Homo sapiens: one gene and its partner. The gene in region 1 interacts genetically with each later gene. Each region holds a gene or a part of one and is shown on either strand. Other genes may lie near its edges.

Evidence for each region. A genetic interaction does not mean that the proteins touch.
Region 2: changes in SCO1 (region 1) and MAPKAP1 together harm fitness more than expected from each alone (negative genetic interaction), as found in Homo sapiens cells (one large-scale study listed by BioGRID).

The regions. Positions count from the first base shown.
Region 1 is NC_000017.11:10,694,734-10,698,876, forward strand, and holds the start of SCO1 (protein SCO1 homolog, mitochondrial), read right to left. Parts: upstream 2,801-4,143; 5' UTR 2,775-2,800; coding exon 2,502-2,774; intron 1,099-2,501; coding exon 1,008-1,098; intron 1-1,007. UniProt on the Homo sapiens protein: Copper metallochaperone essential for the maturation of cytochrome c oxidase subunit II (MT-CO2/COX2). Not required for the synthesis of MT-CO2/COX2 but plays a crucial role in stabilizing MT-CO2/COX2 during its subsequent maturation.
Region 2 is NC_000009.12:125,697,209-125,700,708, forward strand, and holds part of MAPKAP1 (target of rapamycin complex 2 subunit MAPKAP1), read right to left. Parts: intron 1-3,500. UniProt on the Homo sapiens protein: Component of the mechanistic target of rapamycin complex 2 (mTORC2), which transduces signals from growth factors to pathways involved in proliferation, cytoskeletal organization, lipogenesis and anabolic output.

The DNA.
Region 1 (4,143 bases):
TTCTAGAATTTTCCCGCCACAACTTTCCTAGCTTTTGTTTCTTTGTGAAACTAAAGAAACTTACTGCTTATTAGACTATGAAAATCTTACCCAATACTACTTATTATGCCAAAGAGTCTCATATATATGTATGTCAGTACAAAACTTAACACTGCTAAGTTCCTAAAGCCTATGAATTCCCAGATTTAATCATTAACCTTTGTATATAATGTTATCAAAAGAGACTCCAAAGAATGGAAAGATTTAAGCAATACTTTAAAGATTTACCTAAAACCTCTAAACCAAATCTTAAAAGTCCTAGGATATTCACTAAAATGCAAAGTTCTTATAAATAATTTCTAAATATTTCAAGATGCTAATCCAGAGCAGTTCCTGGCATTTCCTGACCAGGCTCTTTTCACCTCCCCCTCATCCACAGAGGGCATGCAGTATCTACTCGCACTATGCTCCTTGCCTGATCTCTAGGAAGCCTTCTCAAATCTCAAGGCTGGGACTTGCTTTTGCTCTCACAACATGGTAAGCTTCCTTCTGGCCTGGCAGAATCGCATCTAGTAAAATACTTTACTTCTGTGTCTGTTTCCCTTCCGTGTGCACCTCAAAGGCTCGACTACATCTTACTCATCTTCGTACCCTCCAGATTTCATCTTGCCCAGTCAAATCTATCCACAGTATATCTTTTAACATTGTTATGCAGTGGTATCCTAGCTTGGATCCTGGAACAAATAAAAGACATTGATAGAAAAACAAGTGAAATCCAAATACAATCTGTAATTTAATAGTTGTGTGCCATTTAAAATTTCTTAGTCATGAAAAATGTGTCATGGTTATACAAGATGTTAATATTAGGGGAAGCTGGGTGAAAGGTATGTAGAACCTATGCTATCTTTGCAATTTTTTGGTAAATCTAAAGTTGTTTCAAAACAAAAAGCTAAAAAACAACAAAAAAGGTGCTAGTCCATAGCCAGGAAGACCTTTATACAGGGCTGAGCAGATGATAATCTACTTACTCTCTGCCTTTTCTTTCTTGACGTGCTTCATTCCAGCCAGTAAAGCTCCTCCAATAGCAAATGTGATTGCTAAAGACTTCCAGGAAACAGGCTACTGGGGCAGGGATTTCAAACATAAAAATTCTAGTAAGATGCAAACATTTAACCATACAAACTTATTAAAGTAGTTTTTAATATACATACACACAGGCCATGATGTTAAATGTGCAAAATGTTTCAGGGATGAGAAAATGCTCAAAGTTTCTGTGGATGCAGTTAGGTCTGGGATCTGAACTACAAAGGCATTCATCTCCAGGGGAAAGTTCCCTAAGTCAGTTCTCTTCATGTAAATAAAAAAAAAAAAAAAAAAAAAAAAAAGCTCAAGTACCACGATTGTTACTATGTGTGACCCTAGCTCCAGTAATGACTTTAAAACCAATTATGGCCGGGCGCGGTGGGTCACGCCTGTAATCCCAGCACTTTGGGAGGCGGAGGCGGGTGGATCACCTGAGGTCGGGAGTTTGAGACCAGCATGGCCAACATGGTGAAACCCCATCTCCACTGAAAATACAAAAATTAGCCGGGCGTGGTAGCGGACCCCTCTAAACCCAGCTACACGGGAGGCTGAGGCAGGAGAATCGCTTGAACCCGGGAGGCGGACGTTGCAGTGGGCCGAGATAGGGCCACTGCACTCCAGCCTGGGCAAAAGAGCAAAACTCCGTCTCAAAACAAAAACCAAAATCCAAAAACACACACACAAAAAACAATTATCTGCTTATGCTGATACTGAGATAAATAGACCAAACGAAATTTGGGAGGTTAACTTAACTCTGGCTTCCAGAAGTAACAATGCCAAAGTAGAAGAGGAATCTAAAAGTGGAGCTTCTTGCAAATTACACCCATTATTTCTTTGTACCCTTATTCAACTCCCCAAATGAAGATGATGTTGGCCAACTAGACTAGGCCTAACTCATTAACCTTCCCGTAGCTCCAAAAACCCACTTCTCTTACCACAGGGTAGTGGCTCTCAAGTTATTTCTGGGTCAGAATTAGAACTCGAGAGAACCCCAAGAAAAAGGCAGATCCACACATAACTAAGTTCCACTTTTTGTTTCAATTTCAACGTATACATGGAACTCTGGATGGGGCTCAAGTGACAAATTATAAAAGTCCTCTGACTTCTCAATCACGGTAAACTTTAGGTTCATACCCTTAAGAAAACCTGAAACTTAATTTTTTTTTTTTTTTTGATGGAAACGCTAACATAAAATCCAAGTCGGGGCATCCAGCCACGTGGAGAGGGTGTAAAGTCTCAAGTTCTCTGTGGAGAACTGGGACTACCCGCAAGGCACGGGAAATGTAGGATGAAATTCCATGACCCAGGTAAGGCGCGCAAGCTAAGGACAACTTTAGGGGAGGCGGAGTAGTGTCTGAGGTTACGACCAAGTGGGATGTGGCCGCTGGGCTGGCCGACAGCCGCGACGAGCACCAGAAGGGTTCCAGGTGTGCACTCACCCCGGGCTTCGAGGGGCGCGTGGAGTCTCCGGGGCCCTTCTGCGACCACGGGGGTGGCGGCCTCGCAGTGCTGAGGGGCCGGGTTCCCAGGCAATAGCCAGGGCGCCCCGAGGCACGCCACGCCTCCGCTTGCCGCGCGCAGAACTGCCTCAGCAAGACTCTCGCAGTCCCCTCGGCTGGGCCCCAAAACTCGAGTCCGCGAGGCAAGAAGCGCCAAAGTTGGCCACCCAGAGGCCGCATAACTCGTCCGGGTACTAGGACCAGCATCGCCATGAGCCTCGGAGACCGGGTCTCCTTTGACCCTCCCCGCGATTTCCGGTAGCGTTCCGCTTCCTCCGGAAGTCGGAAGGAGTCGCTCTGTCCGTCCCGCTCGTTGGTGGCGCTGTTACATAGCCCGTAGTCAGAGGCCTTTCAGCCCAGGGGCCGGCGCACGGTAGGTAGTTCCCTGCGGCTGGAGGCGGGTCTGGCGCGGGCTGGGCGGTGCTGCGGGGCCGCGGGACAGCGGAGCGCCGGGAAGGGGGCTGCCTTAGGGGTCCAGGTGCGCGGCTGGGCCGAGGCAAGGCGGCCCCAAGCGCTGGGGGCCCCCGCTTTGGTCGTGGGCTTCGGTGACCACAGCTAGCTCCTCGCGCCGGGGACACCCCCACCTCGGAAGAGAGAACACACTGCCTAGAGACCCACGGGACTGGGCAGCCCCCATAACCCTACCTTGTCTGGCCGACTTTGTCAACCTCGTCCTGCCGGCCAAGAGGAAGTGCCAGAATGTTGACTCCTTTACATCTTTGAAATAGAAACCGACCCATTGCGATTGAAATAGTCTTTAACTTAAAAAAAATTGCTAATTAGGATAATTTGAGTGGTTAGGGCGGTCTGGAAGAACTTTAAATGCCCAGCGCTTCTAGTTATTTAACATTATAATGTAACCTAATTAATAAAGCATAGCAGTGTGTAAAGAAATATAGACAGCATGATATCCCATCCGTTAACTTAGTCTTCCTGGGTCCCAGTTTCTTAAAATACTCTCACGGACTCCCTTGCTCCCTACAGTTTCGTTATTTGAAGTTTGTTATGGGTTCCTCATCTGGAACTGCTTATGTTCCTTGTTAATGAGGCCAAGAGCATTCGTAGGTTTTTCGTTCTTTGTGAAAGTCTAACTTCATTTCATCTGCCTTTATTTATATCTTAATATCCGCAATATTAACCACTCCCTCCCCGCCCCTACCTCGGTGGTTGCTTTACAAAATACAGAGAAATAAAAAAAGGAAAATCGTCCTCTAATTATCTTCCTTAACTACAGATCCCGCTCCTGTGTGGCTTTTTTTTCCCCCATGGGACCGACTCTGAGTAGGAGAAACTCGTGCTCTGATGATTGTTGGACCAGAGCATGGTTGGTTTGCTTGTTTTCTATGAGTTAGCCAAACTAGCCAACTGTTCTGTTCTCTAACCCAGTAACGGAACATAGTGTTACCTGTGTTTCTTGATTCGCGGTTGGACTAGAATTTTCAGAAATTTCTGCCAAAGTTCTTAAATGTTTGTTCAGCACTTCAAGTCGTTAATCAAACTATTTTTTTCTATCTTATAGTTGCCTGTGGGTAGGATTTTTGCTCTTTTATCTTTGTGTATTTGTTTGCCCAGGGATAATTTT
Region 2 (3,500 bases), on another chromosome or scaffold:
AGAGGTGAAAACTAACTTGAAAATACAATCCATTTACAACTTCACAATCACCTGCATTAGTGAAAACTATTGGTTAAAATGATGGTCACTGACTCTACTCATATTTGTTAATATCAATTTTAAACTATGATTTATTTTTAAATAATTTGTTTATCAAAGAACATTTCTAAAACTGAGAAAAATATCAAGTCTTATAATCTCACCACCTATTTCTTTTCTTTGCATACATGTTTGACATAATTGGGACCATACTTTATAGAGTGTCATATCCTTTTTTCACTTATTATATGGTTAGCATATTAGTATGTCACTAAAATTCTTCTGAAACATCTAAGATGACTGTATATTATTTCCATTCTATGAATTTTCCATGATTTCTCTAATTTTTATTGAACATTAAGGTTCTAATTTTTGCTAAATACTGCTGCAGTGAACATCTTTGAACACGAATATCTTTCGACATCTCTGATTTCTTTAATAAAGATTCCTAGAAATGGAATTACAAGCTCAAAAGGCATGCATAACTTTTTTTAAAAGCTTGTTAATAAATACTGCCAAAGTGCTTTCCAGAAAAGTTTTACTCATTTACATTCCCACTATCAATATGAGTAACCATCTTACCATCTTACCACCAATCTTTATTATCAATGAGTATTAGTATTTTCATCAAATCCTTAAGCTTCATATCATAACACTATACCTATAATCAAACACTCTCACAATATAATCAATAATAACTTTCTGTAAACATTAAGTTTAAATGAAGGCAAAGGGCCATAATTAATGACAGTCCCAAGACAGGGCCAGTCCCAATATCCAAATCCAGAGCAGCATGGAAAAGTGACCCCCAACTCCAAAAAAAAAGTAATAGTGCTTTTCAGTACTCTGAGTCAAAACAAAGGTCAAGTCCTAGTTTTGCTACTCACGCATGCGCGTTCTCGCTCTCTCTATACGTATATACAAAAAGTATATATATATACACACACATATGTGTATATATATGTGTGTGTATATATATATTCCATCTCAAAATATATAAATATATAATTTATAAATATATATAATACATAATATATATAAATATATATATATATATATATATATATATATATATATATATATATATATAAAATATATATATTTTTTGAGATGGAGTTTCACTCTTGTCACCCAGGCTGGAGTGCAATGGCGCAATCTTGGCTCATGGCAACCTCCGACTCCCGGGTTCAAGCAATTCTCCTGCCTCAGCCTCCCGAGTAACTGGGACTATAGGCGTGTGTGTGCCACCACGCCTGGCAAATTTTTGTATTTTTAGTAGAGACAGGGTTTCGCCATGTTGGCCAGGCTGGTCTCGAACTCCTGACCTCAGGTGATCCACCTGCCTCAGCCTCCCAGAGTGTTGGGATTACAGGCATGAGCCACCGCACCCGGCCCGGTAGCTCTATATTTTTATTAATAATTACATTACTTCTCTAAGCTTCAGTTTCGGCATTTGTAAAATGGGGACGGGGATAACATAATATCCCTTTTCTAACAAAGAGCAGTTACAGGCACAAAAAAGATAATATAAACACTTGGAAGTGTTTCTTGTTACTCAGCAGATCAATTCACATAATAGCTTAAAAACAGCATCCTAAAGTCCTTCTCTCAATACAGTATGTAGGTGCACTAATTTACAAAACACAACAGAAATTAACAAATTTCATGATCCAGACATGAAAATGAGTCTCACTCTTTTATGACCACTCCATCAAATCATTGCTTATTACATCATATTAACATCCTGAATGTCTTATGCCCTGAATGCCATTAGAGGTTGGCATCCCTTATCTAAAATGCTTGGGACCAGAAGTGTTTCAGACTCTGGATTTTCTTTGAATTTTGGAATATTTTCATATATATCATGCAGTATCCTGGGGATAAGACACAAGTCTAAACACGCAATTCACTTATATTTCATATACACTTTACACACATAGCCTGAAGGTAATTTTATACTAACTTTTTTTTTCTTTTTTGAGGCAGGGTCTCCCTCTGTCATCCAGGCTGGAGTGCAGGAGCACAATCATGGCTCACTGCAGCCTTGACACCCCGGGCTCAAACGATCCTCCTGCCTCGGCCTCCCAAGTAGCTGGGACTACAGGCACACACCACCACACCAAGCTAATTGTTTTGATTTTTAGTAGAGACAAGGTCTTGCTGTGTTGCCCAGGCTAGTCTCTAACTCCTGAACTCAAGCAATCCTCCCACCTTGGCCTCCCAGGATTGCTGGTTATGAGCCACCTCACCCAGCCAGTATTTTTAATAATTTTATGCATGAAATAAAGTTTTAACTGCAACCTGTCACATGAGGTCAGGCATAGAATTTTCCAATTGTGGCATCATGTCAGTTCGAAAAGTTTTGAATTTTGAAGGATTTTTGATTTTGATTTTTTTTTTTTTTTGAGACAGTCTTGCTCTGTTGCCCAGGCTGGAGTACAGTGGTGTGATCATGGCTCACAGCAGCCTCAGCCCCCTGGGCTCAAGCAATCCTCCTACCTCAGCCTGGAACTACAGATGTGCGCCACCATGCCTGGCTAATATTTTTGTAGAGACAGGGTTTCATTATTTTGCCCAGGCTGCTCTTGAACTCCCAAGCTCAAGCAATCCACTCATCTTGGCCTCCCAAAGTGCTGGGATTAAAGGTGTGAGCCAGCAAATCTGGCCCAGATTTTGAATATTTTGAGTAGGGATGCTCAGCCTGGACCTGCATCTCTCCAGAAGCACTACAGTACTTACAAGGTACTTACATATATTGTTTCATTTAGTCCTCACTAAGGACTATGTGAGATTGGCATTACTGTCCCCATTTTGCAGACTGTCCAGCTTACAGACTGACAAAGCCAATAATCAAATCCAAGCGGGTCTGCCCAAAGCCCCATGTCACACTGCTTAAAATTCAAGTCTGCACTTCAGTTCTTCGTTAGTCTCCTTTATGTCAGTAACTAAGGTTCAGATTAAATACTCGCTTTATTTTCAAAAGAAAACCATTCCTTCAAACAATTTTCTACCAATTTCTCTGCTGAAATGGTACTTATTTATAACACAGTACCTTAAAATGAGTCCATAAGGAACTGGAAAATGTTATTTTTTTTGAAGTTTTACACATTCAGTACACTTTGCATCAATAATAAAAGTATATTCATAAAAGTATACTCACGTATAGGATATTAAGAATCTAACACTGCTTATATTTAGGCATAAATGTGACATAATATTCCACTTATTTCACAAGCAATTACTATAACTTAATTCCAATAGTTATTCTAATACCTTCTTGTTCTTTCTAGAGTTTCGGGTTTGTTTTTTAAGTGGTTTCTCCCATTTTTCTCACTTTCAATTACATAAAACTGTATTCTACTTTCAGTCCAAATTTTGTGTTGCCTATATTAAATCCATTTCCCCAATATATCTAGACTGCTGCCAACTAGAGTTAATAAATTTTGAATGACTGCTCAGGA